7 linked regions of the Homo sapiens genome follow. The protein of the gene in region 1 purifies or fractionates together with the protein of each later gene. This does not show direct contact. Each region holds a gene or a part of one and is shown in the gene's direction. Other genes may lie near its edges. The genes, in order: BRWD3, WDR13, ITIH4, DSC2, NEURL1, TSSK4 and NOVA2.

Region 1 (3,959 bases):
ATGTCAACTTAGAAATTCAAGGCCCACTGTGGTCAGTGGCAGAGCTGAGTGAGGAAACCCAATTCCCAAGAATATAGCCTTAAATTTAGATGAACCTTCAAATTGTAATATTTCAATGTAAATAATACATGCAACTTAAAATGCATTTCTGGTCTCATCAGGTTTAGGTGAGGGAGTGGGGTGGGGACAGGATGTTACGGGAAAGTAGGGAAGAAAAGGACCCGGTTTACTAATCTGTGTCAATTATCATACCAACCCCTTTCATCATTGAAGATTTCAGCAACCAAATACTGAAGGTCAGTGCGGTACCAAGGGTTGGGGTTATATATTAAACAGTGTAGTCCCGAACCTGTAGAAAACTATTGATACCTTGCATAGAGATAGGCAATAATACATAAAGATTATTGAAAACTCTTGGTTAAAGTACTTTAGTAGTATTTGAAAACACAATAGGAAATTACCCTGTAGGAATGGGATGTGTTAGATCCCAGCCGTAGATACGGCACGTGTTAAACTTTCAGAAGGGGAAACATGCTTCACGGCTGATTGCAAATTTCTCATGCAATATTTGTCAGAATCCAGGAGCATTTTAAGTGGTCTTCTAACAATATAAGCCCCGCACTTTGGACTGGTAAGTACAACATTTTCATTTGGTAAATAATAATAATTTTAAACAGAAACAAGTCACGACCAAATAGCGACTCATCCTCCCCCAGGCATAAAACCCTTTAGCCAGCTAGCCGCCTTTCCACGGGGTAGAGTATAAACAGCAAACAAAACCGCTTTGGTACCGGGAGGAAAAAGGGGAAAGGAGTCGAGTCAAAACACCGTCTCTTAAGTTCCTCAAGATCAACCCAGGGGGAAGGGTCCTCCACCGGAAAGGGCCGGATTGCCTTCACAGGAAGGGAAAGTCACTCCGGAGCTCGCAGACGCGAATGCCACCACAGAGTTCCAAGGCGGCTGCCAGAGCGTCGGCCGTCAGTTAGCACCTCCCCCTCCTTCCCAGAGCTGTAGCTAAGCAACCATCGGGCTCCGGGAGAGTCTAGGCTCAGCTGCTGTATTAGTGCCTCTAGCGGGGAACTATGAGCGCTGCAAAACCCTATCACCATTTTTACCCTCCCCTCTCTCCACCCCCTTTGCCCCCGCCCACCTCTTCGCCACTTCGGCTCCTCCCTCTTCTCGCTCCGTCTATCTCTCTCTCTCTCTCTCTCTCCGCCCCCCCACCCCCCGCGTCTCTCTCTCTCTCTCTCTCTCTCTCTCTCTCTCTCTCTCTCTCTTTTTCCTCTCTCTCTCTCTCTCTTCTCTCTCTCTCTCTCACTCACTCACTCTCTCTCTCCCTCTCCCTCTCCTCTCCTTCCTCCTCCGCCTCCTCAGCTCTTGGGCTAGAATATCTATGGGTCGAAACGTGATGCGATGAATTCGAGAGAGAGCGAAACTAGGACGAGGAGTGCGGCGGAAGCGGCGGGACTCCCGGGCATGGGGGCTTCACCACAATAGAGGCAGCGCCCCCACCCGCCCCCGCCAGCCCCTCCGGAGCGAAGCCCCCAAACCCCCTCGGGAAAAGGATGGCGGCAGCACCTACCCAGATCGAAGCCGGTGGGTAGCTGTGTCGGGGGGTGGGGGGGTGCTAAGGGAATGGGGGCTTAGCGCGAAGGCTGTCAGTTTCTTTTGAAAAAGCTTCTATTTCTCTTCTCTACCTCCCTCTGAACCTCTTTTCCCCCCTCTTCCCCAGAGCTGTATTACCTGATCGCTAGGTTCTTGCAGTCTGGACCCTGCAACAAATCCGCTCAGGTAAGGGGAAGAAAGAGATCTGGGAGTCGTGGTGAATGGTCCCAGTGGGGAAATCGAGGCAGCGGGACGAGCAGTTCCGTTGAGGGTGAGGGAAAGGCCGGCCTTGACTAGTCAAACGGTCAGCGGCTGGGCTTTAAGTGTGGAGGGAGGAATGGGTTGATGGCCCGAGCTGCTCCTCATATCTGTGTTTCCCTTTTGCTCAGGTGCTAGTGCAGGAGCTCGAGGAGCATCAGGTACGGAGCCCCTTCGGGAAGGGTGGGGAGGGTTGAGGTGAGACTGGAGGAAGGGGAGGGCAAGTCAGGGGCGGAAGACGGGCTGGGATAGAGGCTTCGATCTGGGTACCCGTAGCTGTTGTCACCGGGGTGAATTGGCTTCTTCCCTCAAAAGGGGCAGACAACGCTGGGGTCTTAACTCGTCCCCGCTTTATGCTTGTGGGAGGCAGTTTTTCAGGATTTCCTTCTCGACCCCCCTTCCCCCCCCCCCCCATATACTTGTCTAGCTCTGAGCCAATAGCTATCAGGCCGAGAGAAATAAAGACGGTAAAGTGTTGAGGACTGGGACACAGGTTGGGTCCAGTTGATGGGGAGCGGAGGCTTTTCCTTCATCATTTGCCTCCGCTTCCCCCTTTCTTTTCGTCCGGCCCCCAGCTGATTCCGCGCCGCTTAGATTGGGAGGGGAAAGAGCACCGAAGAAGCTTCGAGGATCTGGTGAGTAAAGTTTTCATTTCAACTTAACCTAACTCTTTCACCACTCCCTCCCCACCTTGTACCCCCAACCCGCCCCCCACCTCTCAGCCGACGAGGTTCTAGAGCTCGGTGCAGAGCCAAAGAACGACTGCCCCTTCCCCCATCCCTGCTAGTCGGAAAAAGGGTACCTTGCCCTCCCCTTGGCCCTGCTTGTTTCCACCCGAAAACTTTGAAGAATGTGAGTTGATTATCAGAGGTGCCGTGTTGTGGATTATGAATATGTTACAAACATTGGGGAAGGCCCATTGTAGGCGGAAAAGGGAGAGAAACCAAGGGGTTATCTTGGGGCACGTACTAAGGTCTGACGCTGGCCAATGACAGCGTTGGTAACAGCCCGGAGTTCCGGATTAGTGGAAGAAAACTGGTTTCTGGTTGGTCCTGGCCTGAAATACGGGAACTAAGGCCAGGCTTGGTCTTTTTTGGGGGGGGCGGGGGGGCAGGGGGGAGGCGTGGGAGGAAGGGGCTCTGGAGGGGAATTGACGGACCAGGGATTAGGAAAAACGACATAATTAAAAATAATAAGGAGCGTCAAGCCAATTTCAAATTTTGCCGGTTAGGTAATGGTCTACTGAGTAAAAGCATAATCGTTACGTATCTCCGATTTTATAAGCTCATTCAATTATCAGTTAAGTCGCATTTGCATAGACCCGTTTTCACTAAATAGAAACTGAGTTATCACTTTTTGAGAATTGGTGAAACACGATTTTGGGTTTACAAGGAGACAACAATGGACATATTTAAAAATGGAATATACTTTAGTGAAGGACCAAAGGCATTGGTCTATGTTGTTTCTCCTGCAAATATAATTCATAGTATAAATGTACCTTGTGTTCAGCATTGACACACAAAAACAGGTGATCCTTTTTATTTTGCGGGGGAGGTTCCCTTGTGTTAGCTGCTGCCACAGTGCATTGGAGGGTAGTGAAAGGAGAAAGGAATGATGTTACTAAAATCTAAATTCAGCTATCTTTCCTTCAAGTAAGATCCAAGTGGAGGAAAATCGGACAAAGTTAAAGAAAGTTGGCGGTGTATGATAGACTCTAAATATAAATGATTTAAAATTTGCTTGCAATAAGACTATATTTAAATTGCTTCAATGTTCATTTTGTTATTTTTGTTTGTGTTATCTTACAACAGTGAGGCCACATTATTATTATCAAGTCTACCGACTGTATAGTTTTCTTATATTTTGCAAATCACAGAAAATGGTATAATTGTGATAAGGGTAAACTCGACCATCTGTATTATTAATAGTAACAATTTCTCAGATGGAGAAAAATTAGTTTTGAAAAACTTCATGTACTGCCAGGTTAATTTGTAGTCAGTCTTTCTGTTGGACTTAAGTCTTTCCCTCCCCCTAAAAGAGGCAAAAACAACAGTGCCTACTAATATGTTTTAACACTTAATGACTGATACAGGTTT
Region 2 (3,500 bases), about 32 Mb from region 1:
GCTGGGTGTGGTGTGTGCCTATAGGTAGTCCCGGCTACTCGGGAGACTGAGGCGGGAGGATCACTTGAGCCTAGGAGGTTGAGGCTGCAGTGAGCCGTGATCGCACCACTACACTCCAGCCTGGGTGACAGAGTGAGATCCTGTCTCAAAAACAAAAAAAAAAATATGGGTTTCATGAACCCTGTAAAGAACTTAGGCACAGGGGTGGGGACACAGGCCCACAACTTGTCTCCCTGCTAGGGCTGGGGCTGTGTTTTGACCCACTCTCTCATCCTCTCAGGGTGGTAGACAACGAGGGGACCCTGCAGCTGAAGAGAAGCTTCCCCATCGAGCAGAGCTCACATCCTGTGCGCAGCATCTTCTGTCCCCTCATGTCCTTCCGCCAGGGGGCCTGCGTGGGTGAGTCCTGTAGGGACAGGGGATCTGGGTGGCTGGGGAGGGGCAGGAACCAGGGCTGGTGCCAACCTGGCTCAGACATCACGACACCGATGCCCTGACTTCCTGGACCTCATGACCCCTCCTGCCCCAACAGCCTCACTGTGGAACTCACAGCTCCAAACAGCTCAGAGAACTCACAGTTTGCACTTGATCTCGGCCAAAAGGCCGAGAAGTGATGAAAACTCACACTTTGAACGCACTAACTCCCCAAACAGCCCAGAGACCTCGCATTCTGCACACAGTACCAAAACAGCCAGGTGACCTCCCATCTAGGGATGGGGCCCCCTCAAACCTCCCCAAGCCATGCTAGGACCTCACACCTCGGACATACACCCTTCAACACCTCAGACACCTCAGGGACTTCCCACCAGGGGCACCCCAGGCGCCTCCCGATGGCCTCTCCCTCTCACCCCGACAGTGACGGGCAGTGAGGACATGTGCGTGCACTTCTTTGATGTGGAGCGGGCGGCCAAGGCTGCTGTCAACAAGCTGCAGGGCCACAGTGCACCTGTGCTTGATGTCAGCTTCAACTGCGACGAGAGCCTACTGGCCTCCAGTGACGCCAGCGGCATGGTCATCGTCTGGAGGCGGGAGCAGAAGTAGGGTCCTGTCGGCCCTGCTGCTGTCCTCCATCCCACCCCTCTTACTCCAGCCTCGTGTTGTAAATAAAGTTTCGGTGGTCATGCTGAGGGCCGGCTCCCAGCTCTGCCGGGGACGGACAGGGCAGAGGGCAGCGGGCAGCTCCAGGAACACGGTGGAACGGGGTTCATTGACTCATTTGTGCATTCATGCATCGACGGATTCATTCATTCCACAAGCATTGATTGAATGTCTGCTGGGTTACAGGCCCTGCCTTAACTGTTTTACACACTTATGCATTCGATAGACATTAGTGAGCCCTGACCGTGTGCCAGGAACTGTTCTAGGCACTGGGGATACTGCTCTGACCTAAACTGATGGAAATGCCTGCCTTCATTGGGCTTGCATCATAGCGGAGACAGTAGATAAAAACATGGAACAGGCCAGCTAATGATGAGTGGTATGAAGAAAATAAAGCAAGGATGGGAGACAGAGCTGCAGAAGTTGGGGGAGTGGGCTCTTTATGGTGACAGCATCAGGGAAGATGATCCTGACAGGGTGACTTTTTTGTTTTTGAGACAGGGTCTCACTCTGTCACCCAGGTTGGAATGCAGTGGCATGACCATAGCTCACTGCAGCCTCAACCTCCAGGGCTCAAGTGATCCTCACTTAAGCCTCCCAAGTAGCTGGGACTACAGGTGTGTGCCACCACACTCGGGTAATTTTTGTATTTTTAGTAGAGACGGGGTCTCGCCATGTTGCTCAGGCTGGTCTTGAACTCCTGGGCTCAAGCGATCCACTCGCCTCAGCCTCCCAAAGTGCTGGGATTACAGGCATGAACCACCACGCCTGGCTCAGGGTGACATTTAAAGACCTGAATGAAGTGAGTGGGAGTCATAGTGTAGGGGGAGAACATTCCAGGCAGAGAGAAAGCCAGCCTAAAGGCACTGAGGCTGGAGCGCTCCAGAAGGATCATTGTGTATGCCAGAGTCTTGCTGGACCAGAGTGTGACAGTACATGAGGTCAGACAGGCCAGATGCTTCATGGGCCACAGTTAGGACTTTGGCTTTTTTTCTGAGTGGGGGTGACCAGAAGGTGTCAAGCAGAGGAGGAACATGATCTGACTTGGTCATAGAGGCTCCCTCTGGCTGCTGAAGGGGACAGATTGGGGGTGGGGGTAGAAGCAGGGGACCCAGCAGGAGACCCCTCTGAGCGCAGTGATGGGGACTTGCACCAGGGTAGTGACAGTGGAGGAGTTGGCGGGGGAATGTTGGGTCGGACCCCCAGGGGGTTCACTATGTTAGGCTGCAGGACTCTGCTGCCTCCTCAGGGGGCGATATTCCCAACCCTTCTGTGCATTGTGTTGTTTATTAAAAGCAGGGAGCAGAGGTGTTGAGTCCTGGAGCCCCAAGCTGGTGCAGGAGCAACGGGAAGTTAAGGCTGACCTGGGGCCTCCTGCTGTGTGGCGGAATCTCCATCCCTCAGACCACCCCTGTCTCCTCCCAGCCCCATCCAGGGTACAAATTCCAGCCCTGGAACAGCTCAGAGACCAAAAAGTGATGTTAAGTATTTGAGGGGAGCCCCAAGAGAGGAGAAAAAGCTTTGAGTATTGATGGGGGTAAATAACCAAAATCACTTATCAGTGGCCTGCGTCACCAGAAAATGTCAAAGTTACCTGAAGCAGCAAAGAGGCTCTTGCTCCGGCCCCTCCCTTCCTTCTCAGCTCCATTTGTTGCCACATATGCGTTGACTGGAACTGCGACTGACATCTTGGGACCTTAGGGTCAGTCCACAGCGTGGTAGAGACTCCAGCTTGGCCCAGCATTGCTGAGCTGCTGAACTCGCACCAACAGTCTTGTTGGAGGGAAATAATCTCCCGTTTGTTCAGTCCAGTTATTTGACAGTGTGGTTACTTGCACCCCAAGCATTTCTAACTGGCACTTCCATCTAATAGACCTCAGGGTACATGGTGGTGAGATAGGGACATCAGTGAGCTGGATTGTTCCCATGGTAAAGGTCATGTATGTGTGTGTGTGTCATGGTCCTCAATACCAGCCCCAAGCCCAGTGATTTGCTAGGAGGACTCCCAAGACTCAGTATGTGGTTGTATTCATGGCTACGATTGACTTATTACAACAAAAAGATATGGAGCAAAATCAGCAAAAAGAAATGGTGTGCAGGACCAACTCCCAGAGAGACCCAGGCACAAGTTTCCAGGGCTTCTCTCTCATTGGAGTCACACAAGATGTGCTCGGTTCACAGTAATGGGTTGTGACAATACATGCGAAATGTTGCTGACCAAGGAAGCTCAATTAGAGACTCAGCACCCAGAGGTTTTTTTTGTTGTTGTTGTTGTTTTGGTTTTTTTTTGGCGGGGGGGGGGGGGTCTTGCTCTGACGCCCAGGCTGGAATGCAGTGGCATGATCTTGGCTCACTGCAGCCTCCACCTCCTGGGTTCAAGCGATCCTCGGGCCTCAGCTTCC
Region 3 (3,500 bases), on another chromosome or scaffold:
CCCTACGTCTGCTTCCTCCTCAGTCCTGGCCCCACACGGCTGCACGCAGGGCTGGGAACAAGTGTGACTCAGAGAGCTCTTGCTGGTGATGAACTAGTTCCCCTGGAACAGTCCGTGAAATGGAAGGGGCAGGTGGGAATGTGGGCCAGCTTCGGCCAGACTGGACAGGTGGAGAGAAGGCAGGATTTAGCCCGGCCCTGCCCCTCTGCAGCCTCCCCTTCGTCCCTTCTATAAAATGAATGCTTACTGTTACTGTACACACCTCCGGGAGCTAGAGGCCTGGAGCACTTTGCAGAGTGCCCTGCACAGGGTCCTGTATGCGGTAGGTGCATAATAAATGGCACTGGGCTCAGGCAAAGATGGGAGTCACTGTGTCAAGAGGCACACCGAGTCCAGAAAGGCTCTCTGGAGGAGGCAGGAGTGGAATGGGCCCCTGCCACCAGGCTCTCAACAACTCCCACCCTTCTGCCCCCAGGATCATCGATGGCATGACCTACCCAGGGATCATCAAGGAGAAGGCTGAAGCCCAGGCACAGTACAGCGCAGCAGTGGCCAAGGGAAAGAGCGCTGGCCTCGTCAAGTGAGCTGGTGGGGGGCAGCTTCAGTGGGGAGGGTCTAGACAAAGGCCACCTTGCCTTTGGCCCTTAGTCCTGCTCCCACCTCTACCAGCCTTACCCCACCTGTCCTGGAGGAGCAGGCCTGATGCCCTTCTCCCCCAGGGCCACCGGGAGAAACATGGAGCAGTTCCAGGTGTCGGTCAGTGTGGCTCCCAATGCCAAGATCACCTTTGAGCTGGTCTATGAGGAGCTGCTCAAGCGGCGTTTGGGGGTGTACGAGCTGCTGCTGAAAGTGCGGCCCCAGCAGCTGGTCAAGCACCTGCAGGTACCTGCTGCTACCTCTTCCAGGGAGGCCTCCTGCATGACCCTTGCCCTGCTGAGGGCGGCCCCTCTTTGTCCCTGAGCCTCCTGTGAGCCCCAGCCCAGGCTCCTGGCTGACCCAGGGACCCACATCTTGCCTCCAGATGGACATTCACATCTTCGAGCCCCAGGGCATCAGCTTTCTGGAGACAGAGAGCACCTTCATGACCAACCAGCTGGTAGACGCCCTCACCACCTGGCAGAATAAGACCAAGGTGGGCCTGTTGTGGTCAGCAGGTGAGGGTACCAAGGGCCCTGCCTTCAGGCCAGCCCTATGAGCCCGGATTTCTGGAAAGCAGGATGGGCTCTCCCTCCTGTGAGCTGTGACCTGGAGAGGCTCCTGAGATCTCTGCATCCTTGCTGTCATTTGGCAGATGGGGAGGGCAAAGCCTAGAGAAGGACCATGGCGTCCTCGTATGAGCCCTGAGATCTGTCTGGGAAGGGGCTGGATAATAGACTGATGTGAGGGTCCTGGGGCCAGGTGGAGAGAAGGAGATGGTTGGATGGCACACATCCTGGAATAGCCTCTGCTTGCGCAGCTCCAGGAACAGGGAGCTCATCACACCCCTCCCCTACGTGAAAGTGGTCCATCAATAACTCAGCCTGAAAGAAAGTGCCCTGGAATACGGACCCAAGGCTGCATCCTGGAATTCTGATTTCCCAATATACAGACAGGGGTAGAGGGTGTTGTTGGCCTGGCTTTGCTGTTCCTCCCAACTTCAGCCCGGATTATTCCTCCAGGCTCACATCCGGTTCAAGCCAACACTTTCCCAGCAGCAAAAGTCCCCAGAGCAGCAAGAAACAGTCCTGGACGGCAACCTCATTATCCGCTATGATGTGGACCGGGCCATCTCCGGGGGCTCCATTCAGGTGGGTGGACTTCAGGCAAGAGCAGAGCAGCCTAGAAGTCTGTCCACCCCCAAGGGCCTGAGCTTGGGTATTTTAGAACAGGAAAAGAACCACCCTTACTTAGCAGTGTGCACCAGGGACCGGCACAGACAGAAAACACGTGATTTAGTTGTGTTGTCCCTGAAACTATTCCCTTTCCCAGGCAGAAAAGGTTTGTCTCTGAGAAGAGCTGCCCTGTGGGGTTTCCCTCTTTGCCTCTGCTGCTGGGAGGCTCACAACTCAGTTTTATGCAGATTTGCAGTAGTTTCTTTCACACTAGTTTCTGGCATTATTATTGTTGTTATATTTTGGTATGATCATGGCTCACTGCACCGTCAAACTCCCAGGTTCAAAAGAAACTCCTGCCTCGGCCTCCCTAGTAGCTGGGACTACAGGCGTGCACCACCACACCTGGCTAATTTTTTTTTTTTTTTTTCCAGTAGAGACAAGGTTGCCCAGGCTGGTCTTGAATTCCTGGGCTCAAGTGATCCTCCCACCTAAGCCTCCCAAAGTGCTGGAATTACAGGCGTGATTCACCACACCCAGCCATTTCTGCCATTGTTATTATACTTCCCTTTTACTCCATGTTTTTGAAGTCTTCCCTCTTTTGATGGTTGTCAGGTTTATGATGTCTGAACTTTTTAGTATAAACCATCTGAAATACTAAAACAAATAGAAGGAAAAGTTGCAGGGAGAGTTCTGGTGGGCTATGCATGAGCAGGGAAGGCTTCCGCAAGAAAGGGGCTGGTCTGAGCCCTGAAAAAGGGCAAGGTTTTGGGGAGGTTAGCAGTGGGATGGAAATGGGATTGGAACAGAGCACAGAAACCCAGAATTTGGGGTAAAGGGGCTGAATGGGGATAGGGCCAATTGTAGCTCTGATGGCCTGGGTGGGTCTCACTCTGGCCACAGATCGAGAACGGCTACTTTGTACACTACTTTGCCCCCGAGGGCCTAACCACAATGCCCAAGAATGTGGTCTTTGTCATTGACAAGAGCGGCTCCATGAGTGGCAGGAAAATCCAGCAGGTAGGTCCTGTGGCCCAGGGCAGGGCCCTGAAAACTCCCAGGCCCTTCACGCTATCAGCTGTGGTCCGGCAGGCAGACCCCCTTGCTTCACCTTTCGGCACCATGGGGCGGGTGGCTCTCAGGAACCAAGGTTGGCCAGAGCCTAGGGCAGCCCCTGTTCCTAGAGCAGATACCATGACCTCACCCCTGAGACAGGAGTCCAAGGATGCCAGCCCTAGGGCACACGAGCCCTCAGGGAGCCCTTCTGAAGCACCTATGTTTCCTCTCCCTGACCAGACCCGGGAAGCCCTAATCAAGATCCTGGATGACCTCAGCCCCAGAGACCAGTTCAACCTCATCGTCTTCAGTACAGAAGCAACTCAGTGGAGGCCATCACTGGTGCCAGCCTCAGCCGAGAACGTGAACAAGGCCAGGAGCTTTGCTGCGGGCATCCAGGCCCTGGGAGGTAAGTGTCTCTGTGGCCCTGCAGGGTGGGGGCTTCCAGGGCTCCTGGCTGGGGACCACCTTGAGAGTGCGTGTTCCTCAGGGACCAACATCAATGATGCAATGCTGATGGCTGTGCAGTTGCTGGACAGCAGCAACCAGGAGGAGCGGCTGCCCGAAGGGAGTGTCTCACTCATCATCCTGCTCACCGATGGCGACCCCACTGTGGGTGAGGGCCCTGCCCGT
Region 4 (3,500 bases), on another chromosome or scaffold:
AATTTACAAGTGTCAGTATAATGAATTTTAAGTTTTTGGCTCTCCCCACGTGCATACATTACTGTTAAAACTATATCCTATGTTTTACTTTAAAAATGATTGCTGTGCATATTTTCTACAGTTAACCTGAAAGAGTGCTTTACAGCTGCAAATCTAATTCATTCAAGTGATCCTGACTTCCAAATTTTGGAGGATGGTTCAGTCTATACAACAAATACTATTCTATTGTCCTCGGAGAAGAGAAGTTTTACCATATTACTTTCCAACACTGAGAACCAAGAAAAGAAGAAAATATTTGTCTTTTTGGAGCATCAAACAAAGGTATACAAGGCTACATAAATGAAGAAATGATATCTTTTCTTCAGACGTAATCAACATTACCAGGGAAGATATGAAATCAGAAAGGATATGGTATAGTTTGGCTTAAAGACGAATGAAAACCATGAGGCAACTTCACAGTGTTTAGAAGGAAAAGGGCTGTGTCACATGGTTCATTCGGGTTGTCATTCCTTTTCATTTGGGACGTAAAAGGAGAAATTGGGATAAGGTACAGCATGGGAAAGTGAGATTAGACACAAAGCAGCATTTTTTTTTTGAGCTTTACCGTAGAATGGATTTCTAACAACAAGTTTTGAAACTCTGTATAAAGAAAGGAAAGCTTTTTTCTCGCATTCATTTTAGCATAATCTGTGGTCTTAAAACATAGATAACTATTTTAGGAGGAGGTTTGGACCACATGCATGCTATTGTGTTGTGACACCCAAGATCAAAATAACTTGTATTCAACCATTAGCCATTCCTCACTGCAGCAGTTTGAGAGTTGTCACCGTGTTTCTCTCCTCATTCTGACACAGATCTCTCTGTTGGTTCCCTGGCTCTGCCTAGTTGCTGGTGAGTGGAAGTTGCTTGTGCTAAATTTAGAAGGGCACATACACACTTATTTTCTTTGCATATCTCTCTCCCATGTTTTTGCATGGCAATGGGGCAACAGTAATTTTTTTTTCAGTTTTGCTTCTAGGCTTCCAGTTCCATCTCTCTTTCTTCCATATTTCCACCAAATCATTTTCCCAAGAGGATTGTTGTGATAACAGTTAGGACAGTTACTTCTTCATTATCTTTTTGCAGTGTTGATGATTAGTTTGGTTTTCAAGCACTCCCATGGTCTCACCCCTACCCAGCTAATCCTCCTGAGAGGAGAAAGATGTGTCATTGTTTAATGTTTGAGAATAAAGTAGTCATTGACTTTATTATTTTTTCCTGTCTTATGAATTGAGGTCCTAAAGAAAAGACATACTAAAGAAAAAGTTCTAAGGCGCGCCAAGAGAAGATGGGCTCCAATTCCTTGTTCGATGCTAGAAAACTCCTTGGGTCCTTTTCCACTTTTCCTTCAACAGGTACCGTTTTCTTTCTTTCTGCTGTGGGAGTCTATAGTTTCCATCTCTTACCATTATGACACTGAGTATGAAGTTATTTGTAATAGTTGTGTATAAATATGTGAGTGAATGAGTATGTGTATAATATGTTTCCATATAAGGGTATAAATATATCTCTTTATACTTGCATACACTTTTGTTCAGCTTGCAAAGGCCAAGCATAAAACTGTGGCACTCAGACACATGGTTCCTTAATGAATTGTCACATCAGCAAGGGTATCGCCAAGCCTAAGAATAGCTAGAAAACCCAAAACTCTCTTGCATAATAAAGGAGAAAATTGGATGAAAGACCAAATGCCACGAAGGAGGAAGACACATAGGCCCTTCTATCTTTCTATTTCTTGTTCTTGAATCTACATCTGAAATCACACTGGATCCACATTTCTTTCTCTCTCTCTCTGTCTCTGTCTCTTTTTGTTTCTTTTTTTTTGTAGCGATGAGATCTCACTATGTTGCTTAGGCTGGTTTTGAACTCCTAGGCTGAAATGATCTCCCATCTCAACCTCCCAAAATGCTGGGATTACAGGCATGAGCCAAGCATACCTGGCTCTTTTTCTCTGTCTTGTTTTAACTTTCAGTAGAAACCCCAGCAAGCCTTCTTGCCTTCTTCCATTACTGGTGGCTACTACATTCAGTCTATGACTTTGGTTTATTTTCCCTCAGTTCTTGACATAGCAAGGGAGAATCCTTTTTATACCCCACCAACAAATTTAATACAGCTGAGAGAAGAGCATATTAAAGTTGAGAAATTGTTAGAAAACAGTTGTGTCAGTTATCCTGATATAAAGATAGGATGTTACTGAGAGGATGAACACAGCTTGGAGGAAATTTGCTTTTCGAATCAAGGATCAGAATATTACACATTCCAAAATATTATTCCATTTCTATTCTCACTCATATTTTTTTTTTTACTCAGTTCCTATAAGGAAGATGTTGGCAAAGAACAAAAAACTCATTAAGGAAATTATTGTCCACATTTTTGCCCTGCAGACAGTACACTTTAAACTCGGTTCTTAAATGTTATGTTACATATAATAAAAACTCAGTTTTTTAAAACATTGACGACAGAATAATTTTCCATGCTCAGAATACTTTGTTTTCTAAGACAGGAAGAGTCTTAAGTGTTTTTTCCATGTATAGACACCATCTAGCCTGTCAAATATTCCTTTAGTTATTCTGGAGAACTAAGATGCACTACATTATTTTACTCATGCCTTGCTCTTGAAATTTCTCAATTGGACTTTCTTATTCTATTGCTGTTTTAATTTATATATAATAATAAATTAAGGGCAATTATTTAAACTAATAAAATGGCAATGAGATTTCATAAATATATAGATGAAAGCTCTGCTGAAATAAAGATTTGTCTCATGTATATAATATCTACTTTCTAGGTTCAATCTGACACGGCCCAAAACTATACCATATACTATTCCATAAGAGGTCCTGGAGTTGACCAAGAACCTCGGAATTTATTTTATGTGGAGAGAGACACTGGAAACTTGTATTGTACTCGTCCTGTAGATCGTGAGCAGTATGAATCTTTTGAGGTAAAGTCTAAAATGTGTGTACTGTATTAGCAATGATGATGCTTGGCCATTTTGTCTCTCATTTGCAATTCACGTAACCTTTTCTGCTTTCTGAGTTTGTCACCAATGCTCTGGCTACTCCCTAATAGCACATAATTGACTTGAAACAAAAAATATTTTCATAGAATAAATAATATTGGATTCCATTAGATTGTTCCTGGTATTATGGTTTTACTATTTTTTTTTCCCCCACAACAGTACCACTTTGAAGAACAGTTTTTTTTTTTTTTTTTTTGAGACAGCATCTCACTTTGCCACCCAGGCTGAAGTGCAGTGGCGTAATCTCGGCTCACTGCAATCTCTGGCTCCGGGGTTCAAGTGATCCTCCCACCTTAGCCTCCTGAGTAGCTGGGATCACAGGCACGCACCATGATACCCAGCTAATTTTTTGTATTTTTAGTAGAGATGGGGTTTCACCATGTTGGCCAGGCTGGTCTCAAGCTCTTGACCTCAGGTGATCTGCCCATGTCGGCCTCCC
Region 5 (3,500 bases), on another chromosome or scaffold:
GAGAGGGAGAGAAGACAGACTTGGGCTGGGCACTGGCCCTAGGGATTCGTTCCGTTTTTAGCTGTTTCCCAGCAGCTTTTGTCCCTCCCCTCCCAACTCTAGCAAGATTTCAAGCAAGGCTAAAGGGATCCTCTTCCTACCCCCTTCTCTTTGTACATCCTCCACTGTTTCTCCTTTCTTTCTTCTTTATCCTCTCACCTCTACATTTTAGCTGCTGCTTCTTGGTCTTTGGTGATTTCATTCAATGAGTATTTCCTGGGTACCCATCATGACTGATGTGAAATCCTGCATTAAGGTTCAAAAAGCCCATGGTCTGAGGACAGGTGTACCTGACTTTTAGTTGAGACTGTGCTCAAGCCAAGCAAATACTAATATCTGAAGTTATCGGGTAGCTTCTGGGTGCTGGGGGTGGTCCCACTTTACCTCGGATCTTTCCAACAACAACTCAGGGCAGGTATTATTACCCCTATTCTCTAGGTGAGAAATTTGAGGCTGGGAGGAAGGTTGCTTACCCAAAAGCCACCAGCCAAGTGCTGGATCAGACATTTAAACCTAGGCCTGATCCAGACCTGGATCACCCCAAAGCCCATGCACTTTCTTCTGAATCATGTGGCATTTCACATGCCAATAACAACGGCTTATATTAACCTAATGACTGTGCCAGGTCTCCTATTAGGTGCCCTGTGTACCTTACTCCTTTTCATCCTCACAGCGTCTCTTCTAAGGGGAGTATTAGATACAGATTTTATGTAAATCAGTAGATGCTGATTTCACTGCTGAAGAGGCCCCAAGAAGTTCAGCTATTTGTCCAGTCATATAGCCCTGTCATACAGGAAATGGCAGGGCCAGGATTTGAACCTAGACTGATGACTTCAAATTCATTGCACTTAACTGTGCTCCTGTCCTGCCTACTAGTATATGAATGTTGGTTACTGAAAAAAACCTAATGTACTTTTAGGTTGCATTATTAGAAGTATAGCATATATACCAAGGGAGGTGATGGCCACACTATGCCTTGAGCTGGTTGGTGCACATCTAGAGTACTGAGTCTGGTTTTGTTCATTATCTAAGAGGTGGGAAGGTGTGTGGGGACTCTGAGTATTCCCTGAGAATTGTCTTCAGTACTGGGCTGATAGGCAGCTCAGGAGGTAGTGGGTTAAATACAGGGAGGTAGATTTTGGTTTAAAAGAAGGAAATACTCTTTAAAGACAGATTAACTCCACAATGGAACAGGTTGCCTGGAAGTTAGTGAGCACCTGGTAGTGTGCATGTTTAAGTAGAAGGGGACTCCTGAAGGGGCAGAGAGACCAGGATAGCTTGCATCCAGCCCCATTAAGAGCTCTGTTCTGAGGGTCTGCCCAGCCCCAGGAGCTCTGGACTGATTGTCCTGAGGGGGTGGTGTGGGCCCTGTGACAGCTGTGTTCCTGGAGGCTCTGGCTGGACATCTCTGAGCGACCTGATTCCTCTTCTCCCTGCTGTTACTGCCCCTTCCCCTCTCTGTCTCCCACCCTCTGAAGTTCCCAAGGGTCAGTGCCTGGAATCCCAGAGGGGTGAGGGAGCAGGGACTGTTCCCCAGGGTCCAGGTCAGCCCACTGGCTTTCCCCCACTCTGCACCATTTGTCTCTCCTACCTCCCCCCTGCACAGGCCCTCCTGGCCTCTGCCTCTGCCTCTCTGCAGCCCCCCAGCCTCTATGCACCATCACTGTCACAGAGTCAATTCCCTGGAATAATCACATTTTCTGGCCGGCTCCCTCCTCCTCGCCAACACGATTCCAGGAAACCCCAATCAGCCAGGCCCCAGGAGGCTTCTCCAGAGCTTCAGGAGGCTTGGGGGGAAGGGCCCACACCCAGAGCTTTCTGGGGGCCAGACAACACAGTTCCTGGAAGGGGCAGTGAAAGGGTGAAAGAAAAGAGGGAGGTTTAGTGACCATGTCTACATTCAGTTGGAACTGAATTTTGGCCTCTGCTGTCCCTACCAGACCAATCCCCCAAGCTTTGCTGTCATACCTGAGAACCCCAGCCATCCTTAACCCAGTTCCTGAAGAGACAGCACAGATTCTCCCTTGGAGAGGTTCAGGGAGAAGGCCCAAAGGAAGGGATCGGTCCATGGTGCGGCTTACAGTGGCACCAGGCATATTTGGAGAGATTGACTCACGCAGAAAGGCTTCAATAAACAAGGAGAGTCTGGAAGTGAAGAATGCGGCATTAGGAGTTGGACAGACCTTTTTTTCAATCCTGGATCTGCCACATGGCGGCTGTCATAACGCCGCTGAGCTTTATCTGTAAAACGGGAACACTTCCACGGGCTGCCGTAAGGATGAATTGCAGGGGTAATTCATGGAACATGGTGATCACTTTTATTGAAAGTTATAGGACTCCATAAAGCAGAACATAACACAGCCATTAGAAGAATATGGTGTTGGAAACAGTTATTGGCACGGAGAGGTGTTCAGATGCTGGGGATAAGATGGAAGGAGCCCAGGAGTTAAATTTTTGAAAATTTTGAAAAAAGCTACCAGGGTTCTTAGCCTGGAGTCCTTGCCCATGAATGGCTTCATGTAGTTCATGAATGCCGAGAAATTATCTACAGAATTTAGTGAGAATGTTCATTTTTCTGGGGAAAAGGGTCAATGTCATCACATTTTCAAAGTGATGTAGTACATATAAAAGGTAAAAAACAAGTGATGTTTATATAGCATGACTCAATTTTTGCACTAAAAAAAGTAACCAGCTGGGTGTGGTGGCTCACACTTCTAATCGTAGCACTTTGGGAGACTGAGGCAGGAGGATCGCTTGAGCCTAGGAGTTGGAGACCAGATGGGCAACATGGCGAAATACCGTCTCTACCCCAAAAATACAAAAATTAGCTGGGCGCGGTGGTGCATCCCAGCTACTTGGGAGGCTGAGGTGAGGATGGCTTGAGCCTGGGAGGCGGAGGTTGCTGTAAGCTGAGATATCTCCACTGCACTCCAGCCTGGGCCACAGAGCAAGATCCTGTCTCAAAAAAAAAAAAAAAAAAAAAAAAAAAGCCAAACAAACAAAAAACCCAAAAATACAGCCTTTAAAAAGGCCAAAAGATCATACATCCAAATATTAAAAATGCTTTTCTCTGGGTGGTGGGCTTATAGGCGATTGTTTTTTCTTTTTGCTGAACTGAATTTTCTACAAAATACCGTTTTATATTTTGTATAACTTGTATGATTTAAAAAAGAACGATGAGTTTGATTCCCTGTTAAGCCACTTTCAAAAGGGTATCTTGGATAGATCTACTTCTCAGCCTGTGTCCTGACATGGCAATGGTAGCCTCAAAAGGTGATTGTTAAGGTTAGATGAGACAATGTACGCAAAGAGGGTGTCTGTGTGTTTGCTGGGGGGTGGTTGCTCCCTGGCTTTCCAGGATGTTAGGCCTTCGTCAGTGCACTCGACAGACGGTTACTGTTTGTCAACAGAATGCTTGGCGCTGTTCTAGCTGCTAGGGATAAGACGGAAGGAGCCCAGGA
Region 6 (3,969 bases), on another chromosome or scaffold:
CACAGAAAAGTCTGAGAGAAGAAAATAAGTTCAATTATTGATATGGTTAAGTTTGAGATGGATATGGTAAGTTCCATGCCTGGGGCAGACATGGCCACGTAATACTGGCTGCTCTATCTAAACTCCAGATATATGGGATGGAGATGAAATTAGGAGCAGTCAGCATAAATGTAGTATTGACACCATGGGTATGGACAAGATTAAGGGAGGATGTGAAGGTTTGAGAAAATAAAGCTTGTGATGTAACACTTGGGATATGATTAAGGGATGGATAGAGAAAGATATAACTTCAGTGAAGGCTGAGGAGTGACCAGAAGGATGTGGAGGAAAACTAGAGAGTTCTGGCTCATAGAAGATAAGGATGCATTTCAAGGTTAGATTTTCCTAGAACATGTTCAATACCTTACAATGGTAATACTTTCACACTCGTATTTCTCATGCTGCATTATAAGCTTTAGGATCATAGTGTCTCTATTGGCCTTATTGAACTAAGGGGGCTGCAATGGGCTCGGAAAGCCTTGAGTGTATCATTAAAGAGATAAGTAGGAGATAGCAGAGACAGGATTTGATGAAAGATTGTATGTAGGGATTGAGGAAGGAGGAAGGGTCTGGCATGACATTTGGGTGACATTTTATCCAAGTATTCAGCACAGTGTCTGGTACTTAGTAGGTACTCATATATCAATGAAAGGTCTGATCTTTAGGAGTTTCACCAGACTGTGGAAGGTGCCTCTGGGAATGAGTACGTTTCCAACTGCACTTCATTCTCTTTTTTTTTTTTTTTTTTTTTGAGACGGAGTCTCGCTCTGTCGCCCAGGCTGGAGTGCAGTGGCGCAATCTCGGCTCACTGCAAGCTCTGCCTCCCAGGTTCACGCCATTCTCCTGCCTCAGCCTCCCAAGTAGCTGGGACTACAGGCGCCCGCCACTACGCCCGGCTAATTTTTTGTATTTTTAGTAGAGACGGGGTTTCACCGTTTTAGCCGGGATGGTCTCGATCTCCTGACCTCGTGATCCGCCCGCCTCGGCCTCCCAAAGTGCTGGGATTACAGGCGTGAGCCACCGCGCCCGGCCGCACTTCATTCTCAAGTTTTGTGGCCAACGATGGATAGGAGGTGGATTGTGATGTATTCGGAACATGGGACCTTGAGGAGTTCCGTAACCAAAAGGAGAAAGTAACAACAGCCAGTGGAGACAAAAAGAACTGCTTCTCTTTCTTTCCCCCTCCAAGTTCCTAGTGGAGGGCTGAGTCCAGCATCCCAGACTCGTGTGACTATATAGGCAAGCATTTGGGGACCTACTTCACTTTGATACCCTAGCCTTCAGCAGCTCAAGGTGTTGGCCTTTGGATAGGAGGCTTCCAAGTAGTAAAGCTCCCTGCTCTCAGCAAGCCCAACACCATGGGGAAGGGAGATGTCTTAGAGGCAGCACCAACCACCACAGCCTACCATTCCCTCATGGATGAATATGGTTATGAGGTGGGCAAGGCCATTGGCCATGGCTCCTATGGGTCGGTATATGAGGCTTTCTACACAAAGCAGAAGGTTATGGTGGCAGTCAAGATCATCTCAAAGAAGAAGGCCTCTGATGACTATCTTAACAAGTTCCTGCCCCGTGAAATACAGGTTGGAAAGGGGGCTGGAAGAGGGAACTGGAGCTTGGTACTAAGCTGCTTGAGGTTTCTCAGAAGGGGTATGGCCAGGAGGGGTGGGGCCAGAAACCCCTAAACCAGAACTGAAATGTCTCACTAAGCAGCTAGGAAACTTTATGTAAGTTAAACCTCTTTCCCATCCACCCACTCACCTTCAGTCCCCAAAAAGTAAAGGCACAAAACATAGCATTTGCCCACAGGCCACCAGTTCTCTGGGGTTGAGGGGCTGATCCTATTGCAAAGTCCTAAGTCAGTAGCTGAGGGTAGGAGACGGCTGGGAGTGCAGTCAGGGTTCTCCCTTCCCAGGTTTGATGGGTCCTTCTTCTGGGGTCAGGTAATGAAAGTCTTGCGGCACAAGTACCTCATCAACTTCTATCGGGCCATTGAGAGCACATCTCGAGTATACATCATTCTGGAACTGGCTCAGGGTGGTGATGTCCTTGAATGGATCCAGCGCTACGGGGCCTGCTCTGAGCCCCTTGCTGGCAAGTGGTTCTCCCAGCTGACCCTGGGCATTGCCTACCTGCACAGCAAGAGCATCGTGCACCGGTGAGGGCGCTGCCACCCAGACTGGGGCCTTTGCCCTCAAGGGGGTTTTATGCACATCTCCCATTTCCTGTCCTTTTTTCCTCTTTCGAACTCCCTCCTCAATATCTAGCCTATTCATGCACTCTATTTTAATCATATGGTCAAGGATACTGATAAAGTACTCACTGTATGCAAAGCATTTTATGAAATACAATGGTGAGCTCCCGGTGGTCCTCAGATACCATCCTCTGTCTCTCTCCCTACTTTGGGCTCTGCTCACAACTCCATGGCTTTCCTTCCTCTCTACCTTGTGCCCTCATAATGGTTTCTACCTCCCACTTCCTCTGTCCTCATCTTTACCCTCTGACCCCTGGCCCTTCAGCTCCCAGTCTAAAACTAAGCCCTCTCCCCAGCCTGATGCCCAGCCTTTCTGCTGCTGGTAGGGACTTAAAGTTGGAGAACCTGTTGCTGGACAAGTGGGAGAATGTGAAGATATCAGACTTTGGCTTTGCCAAGATGGTGCCTTCTAACCAGCCTGTGGGTTGTAGCCCTTCTTACCGCCAAGTGAACTGCTTTTCCCACCTCAGCCAGACTTACTGTGGCAGCTTTGCTTACGCTTGCCCAGAGATCTTACGAGGCTTGCCCTACAACCCTTTCCTGTCTGACACCTGGAGCATGGGCGTCATCCTTTACACTCTAGTGGTCGCCCATCTGCCCTTTGATGACACCAATCTCAAAAAGCTGCTAAGAGAGACTCAGAAGGAGGTCACTTTCCCAGCTAACCATACCATCTCCCAGGAGTGCAAGGTACTGGCTACCTAAGGAGGGCTGAGCCTTCAGGGATGACCCACAGGGAGGGGTGAATATCCAACCTAGGTCACCCAACCTAGGCCTCCCAACCCTGGGGAAAGGCTCTTCCCACACCAGAGCCATCTCACACACTAGCTCCTGTCCTATAATAAACAGTATGGAAGGCATAAAGGGCCAACCACTAGGCTCCAAACCTTGCCTGATACACAGGTTCCAGCTTCTTTCTCTTTAGGCCAGAAGGGAAATATGGAAAGCATTCCTCCCAAGGAACTCTTCCCTTCCCCTCCAGGGAGTTAACTGCCTGGGTCTCCAAGATAAAATCAGAGCCACACCCACTTTGACCAGAGTGGTATGATGGGCTATCCTGCTTCTTTCTTAGGTCCAACTGCTCATTGCCTGTGTGGCACAATGGAGAAAAACTCAGGCAAGACCTCTCTCTCCCCTGCTCTAGAACCTGATCCTCCAGATGCTACGCCAAGCCACTAAGCGTGCCACCATTCTGGACATCATCAAGGATTCCTGGGTGCTCAAGTTCCAGCCTGAGCAACCCACCCATGAGATCAGGCTGCTTGAGGCCATGTGCCAGCTCCACAACACCACTAAACAGCACCAATCCTTGCAAATTACGACCTGAAAATGGCTGAGGGAGGGGGCTAAGAGAGGAGCAAAGCAGGAGGTCTTGGGCTAAAAATCTTTTTTACCAAAAATAAATCTAAGTCTGATTTAGTTTCATCAACTAGGGTCAAAGACATTCTTTTCTCAAGGCAATCTTATAGCAGGGAACACTGCTGGAGTAAGAGATAGATTTCTGCCCAGAGCCTGTAACCAATAATCTTGACACTGTGTTAAATCAATAGTGTAATTCATGATGTGGCTCTTAGGGGATGGGGTGCTCAGATTAACGCTCTATTTTGGGAAGCTTTATTATTCAACTCAACATATGCTCATTATTTTACATCTTTGTGCTGTTTAAATGCTCAAGT
Region 7 (3,500 bases), on another chromosome or scaffold:
CTTTCAGTTCTAGATCTGAGGGAAGCCATGGGAGTAGAGGTAGCAGAGGCGTCTGAGCTGAAATGGGGCATTTGGAGCAAGGACCCCAGAGTTCCCAGATCTTCTCAGCTACTCTCCTCCCACTGGAGCTGTCCCTCCTAGGTGGGAATGTTCACTCTTTTGTTGTCAGGTTGTATGGGGGGGCAGGGACAGTGCTGCTGGGAAGGATGCCAGCTCTGGGATTGGGCCAGTCCTGTGGGCAAGACTTGCAAGAGGCTGGATCAACTTGGTGTGGTATCTCTGATGGCTTAGAGTAATGGCAATGAGGGTCTCTGTTGTGATGTCACTGAGTACTTTCTGGGGTGCTTCTGGGCACCCCTTATGATGTCACAGGAAGCAGTTCCTCAGAGGTTACTTCCTGTGAACATAAGGGAGCAGGTACTTCCTGTGATGTCTCAATGAGTTCTTCCTTGAAGGTCACTTTGGTGATATCATGGGAAGGTGTACTTCCGGTGATGCCTAGAGGTCACGTCCTGTGATGTCATTAGGCTGAAGCATGTACTTCCTGTATTGGACAGTGACCAGTCTCTGACCTGCCTTCTCCCTCCACACCCTTCTTTGGTGGGTGTTGGCCTGGGGGTCTTCCTAGGAAGAGAATAAGGCACGGGACTTGGATCCAATCTGGAGGACTCTAACGGAAAAAAACCAATATTGTCAGGGTCATCTCCATTCAAACACGTCAAGTCTGCGAACTCGCCCTGGAGGGAGGGGTGGGAGATGGACCTAGTGCAAACTACTGTTAAAGACCTCCCTTCCCACCCCTGCCTTTTGTGTGCATGCCTGTGTCTGCGTGGCTTTGTTTCATTGAATCGGGTGAGCCAAGTGTGTGGTGGCTCTGTCAGGCCAGTATGGCCAGGTGTAGAGTTCAGTGAGCCATAGTAGGGTCCCTTGGGCCAGAATGCTTCGTGTGGTCTGATAGGTTAGATTGGTTTGGTGGCTTCCAGCAAGCTGGCATACTTCGGTGATGTCTGATGGATCAGAATGTTTTGGTGTGCTCACCAGGGGCTCTGGAGAACTAGAATGTTCTGATGGAGTCTGACAAGCCAGGCGGCCTTGAGAGTTGGTTTAGGAGTGGCTCCCTGAGTGCTGTGGCTGTGGTCAGCTCTAAGGACCTGTTGGCAGACTGAGATTTCAGGGCCTGACAACCATGTAGACTAGGATAGCTGAGACCTCCCTCTACCCCCACCCATCTCCCTCTCTTCCTTGGAGACCACCTCCACTTTCTCCAACCCAAAGCAGGGCGCCCAGTGCCCTGGTTCCATCATCAGCATCTCTGGGGGAGGGGCGCCCCATGCCCACCCTCTCCCCCATTTGTCCGCCTCCTAGGTCTTCCAAACCCTTTTCTTCTCTATGACTTTGGGGGAAATCCAGCCTCCTTGTCTCTCTCCTAAAAAAGGAGGGAAGAAAAGCCACAGAGACAATTCCTGCCCCTAAAGCCTAGGAGATCCCTCTCCCTTGCTAGAGAGCCACCCCCAAATCAAAATGTGAAAATCCCTAGAAAGCAATAGCCTTCGAGGTACCTTGCACTGAATTTCCCACCCCAGCCCTTCCACCCGATGGGAGGCTGTAACTTGGGCACTGGGGTGACTTTTTCCATGCCCTTGTCATCTCCAGGGTGGGAGGCAGGCCCCACTTCCCCTCCCCTATCCCCCACTTCCCATTGTTGTTGCCCCACCCCTAATCTCCAGACTGAACCCAGATGGAGATCTGAGTGCCAAAACAATTCTTGATGTAACTTTGTACATATCTTCTACTACCGTTGGGGGCTCTTGGGGTTAGAGGTGGGGGCGGCTCTGTGGGCCATTGCTCCCCTCCACCTCTCAAAAGACCTTACAGTATTTCACAGTATCTCTACCCGCACGCGAGTATTACAGTATCTAGCTGGAATATCCCCCTACAGCCCCCCAGGACCCTATGAGGAAGGGAAGGAGCCAGGGAGAGTGAAGTAAGGTCTGGGACTGGGGAGGTGGGATCTGAATGAACTCATTTGCATATCATTTGCATCCTCCGCTTGGCAGCCGCTTTCTACAAACTCATTCACTGGAGTCTGGGTCCCAATCAGCCGGGTCCAGGACTCCTCTCACACAGACACATCTCCGGAGGCTGGGCCTCCTGAAAAGTGTTTGCTTGGGGTGTCTGTGTAACAACCCCTCCCTATTCATATTTCTTGGGGACCCCCTACCCAGCCAGCCAGGGTGATCTGAAAGGTATACTTTGCTAGCTCAGTGAGCTAGTTCACTCACCATGTTGGTGAGCAGAGAGCCACACCTTTCCCCATTTTACCTTGGGAAACTCACTCCACCATCTTTGCCATCTCTTGAAAGTCCCTTCTGCAATCTGACCTCAATCTTTTGTGCTGCAGTTTGTCCAGAGGGGACACAGATGTGGGGTCAGGGATGAGGATTATTGAAAAACCCATCATCTCTTTTTTTTTCCCCGTCTCCCTATTAGCCAATCCGATCTCAGAGTCTCTGAGTGGCCTCCTTGCACCCTTCTCTTCAGCACCCAGTAGGTGCTTAATAAGTGTTTGCTGCATTGGATTATCTCCCTATTCCTTCTCATTTGCCCTCTAGCTTCCCATACCTTCTCCAAGTGTCTTCCTCCCTTTCTTTGTCTGGCTCCCTATGACTTTCTATTTTTTTTTCCTCCGTGTGGTTCCCATTGTTTTCTGTCCTGTCTCTATCTTAGTCTTTGTCTGTCTTCCTCCTTTCCTCAAATGTCTCAACTCTCTCTCCCCAATTTCCCCATTTAAAAAAAAAAAAAAGTGCCAAACTTCCTTGGAACTGAGCCGCTCTGGGGGGAGAGGACCTTGGATAGAGGGGAGGAAATGGGACCATTTCTCTTTGAGGAGGTCCCTAAGAGGCATTGCAAAAGTGTGGACATGGAGCTAAATTGGGTCCCCCTTCCACAGCCCTCCCACCCTGAGTTTTTCTTAGAATCTTTGTAAGAAAAAAAAAAAAAGACAGAAAAAAGCTCTCCTTTTCAACTTACCCCTATCCTTTTGGGTCCCCCCAAATTCCACCAGCCAAGGAGAATCCCACTTGCCAACTTCCTGGCAAATCTATGGAAACTGGGGAGGAGGAGACAAGCTCAACTCCTCCTCTGCTAGCCCAAGGGGCGGTACCAACTGGATTCAAGAGAAGGACCTCAAAGCTCCTATGAGAAGAGGGGGTTCGATGTGCCAAATTAACCTCCTTCATCCCCCATCTCAGGGGGCTCTGAGCCAACCTGCCCAGCCACCTTCTTCTGCCCTGTCCCAGCCACCTCTACATGGGCAAGGAGGCTTCACTGCAATAATTAGTAGGGGTGGTGATCAGAAGACAATGATTTTGCCGTTTCTATCTGCCCTAACGCCTACCCTGGACTTGTAGTTGGGAATTATGGGTATCCCAAGTGGATGTTGATAAAAGCCGACCTATAGATGGTTGGGGACCTCTACTTGGAACACCAGGGTGTCGCTT

Evidence for each region.
Region 2: the proteins of BRWD3 (region 1) and WDR13 purify together in Homo sapiens (affinity purification with mass spectrometry, with the first as the bait; one large-scale study listed by BioGRID). This does not show direct contact.
Region 3: the proteins of BRWD3 (region 1) and ITIH4 purify together in Homo sapiens (affinity purification with mass spectrometry, with the first as the bait; one large-scale study listed by BioGRID). This does not show direct contact.
Region 4: the proteins of BRWD3 (region 1) and DSC2 purify together in Homo sapiens (affinity purification with mass spectrometry, with the first as the bait; one large-scale study listed by BioGRID). This does not show direct contact.
Region 5: the proteins of BRWD3 (region 1) and NEURL1 purify together in Homo sapiens (affinity purification with mass spectrometry, with the first as the bait; one large-scale study listed by BioGRID). This does not show direct contact.
Region 6: the proteins of BRWD3 (region 1) and TSSK4 purify together in Homo sapiens (affinity purification with mass spectrometry, with the first as the bait; one large-scale study listed by BioGRID). This does not show direct contact.
Region 7: the proteins of BRWD3 (region 1) and NOVA2 purify together in Homo sapiens (affinity purification with mass spectrometry, with the first as the bait; one large-scale study listed by BioGRID). This does not show direct contact.

What each region holds. Positions count from the first base shown.
Region 1 is NC_000023.11:80,807,078-80,811,036, reverse strand, and holds the start of BRWD3 (bromodomain and WD repeat-containing protein 3), read left to right. Parts: upstream 1-1,159; 5' UTR 1,160-1,565; coding exon 1,566-1,596; intron 1,597-1,732; coding exon 1,733-1,791; exon of another isoform or gene 1,792-1,994; coding exon 1,995-2,024; exon of another isoform or gene 2,025-2,229; intron 2,230-2,438; coding exon 2,439-2,498; intron 2,499-3,959. UniProt on the Homo sapiens protein: Plays a role in the regulation of cell morphology and cytoskeletal organization. Required in the control of cell shape.
Region 2 is NC_000023.11:48,603,992-48,607,491, forward strand, and holds part of WDR13 (WD repeat-containing protein 13), read left to right. Parts: intron 1-280; coding exon 281-399; intron 400-856; coding exon 857-1,041; 3' UTR 1,042-3,500.
Region 3 is NC_000003.12:52,824,173-52,827,672, reverse strand, and holds part of ITIH4 (inter-alpha-trypsin inhibitor heavy chain H4 isoform 1 precursor), read left to right. Parts: intron 1-475; coding exon 476-580; intron 581-719; coding exon 720-882; intron 883-1,021; coding exon 1,022-1,132; intron 1,133-1,658; coding exon 1,659-1,787; intron 1,788-2,358; exon of another isoform or gene 2,359-2,468; intron 2,469-2,714; coding exon 2,715-2,831; intron 2,832-3,107; coding exon 3,108-3,276; intron 3,277-3,335; exon of another isoform or gene 3,336-3,357; coding exon 3,358-3,483; exon of another isoform or gene 3,484-3,500. UniProt on the Homo sapiens protein: Type II acute-phase protein (APP) involved in inflammatory responses to trauma. May also play a role in liver development or regeneration.
Region 4 is NC_000018.10:31,088,922-31,092,421, reverse strand, and holds part of DSC2 (desmocollin-2 isoform Dsc2a preproprotein), read left to right. Parts: intron 1-121; coding exon 122-321; intron 322-1,274; coding exon 1,275-1,394; intron 1,395-2,827; coding exon 2,828-2,983; intron 2,984-3,500. UniProt on the Homo sapiens protein: A component of desmosome cell-cell junctions which are required for positive regulation of cellular adhesion.
Region 5 is NC_000010.11:103,580,705-103,584,204, forward strand, and holds part of NEURL1 (E3 ubiquitin-protein ligase NEURL1), read left to right. Parts: exon of another isoform or gene 1-285; intron 286-1,734; exon of another isoform or gene 1,735-1,880; intron 1,881-2,007; exon of another isoform or gene 2,008-3,039; intron 3,040-3,500.
Region 6 is NC_000014.9:24,204,527-24,208,495, forward strand, and holds TSSK4 (testis-specific serine/threonine-protein kinase 4), read left to right. Parts: upstream 1-1,169; 5' UTR 1,170-1,397; coding exon 1,398-1,622; intron 1,623-1,982; coding exon 1,983-2,197; intron 2,198-2,589; coding exon 2,590-2,983; intron 2,984-3,365; coding exon of another isoform or gene 3,366-3,437; coding exon 3,438-3,620; 3' UTR 3,621-3,722; downstream 3,723-3,969. UniProt on the Homo sapiens protein: Serine/threonine kinase which is involved in male germ cell development and in mature sperm function. May be involved in the Cre/Creb signaling pathway. Phosphorylates CREB1 on 'Ser-133' in vitro and can stimulate Cre/Creb pathway in cells.
Region 7 is NC_000019.10:45,935,866-45,939,365, reverse strand, and holds part of NOVA2 (RNA-binding protein Nova-2), read left to right. Parts: 3' UTR 1-3,500. UniProt on the Homo sapiens protein: Functions to regulate alternative splicing in neurons by binding pre-mRNA in a sequence-specific manner to activate exon inclusion or exclusion. It binds specifically to the sequences 5'-YCAY-3' and regulates splicing in only a subset of regulated exons.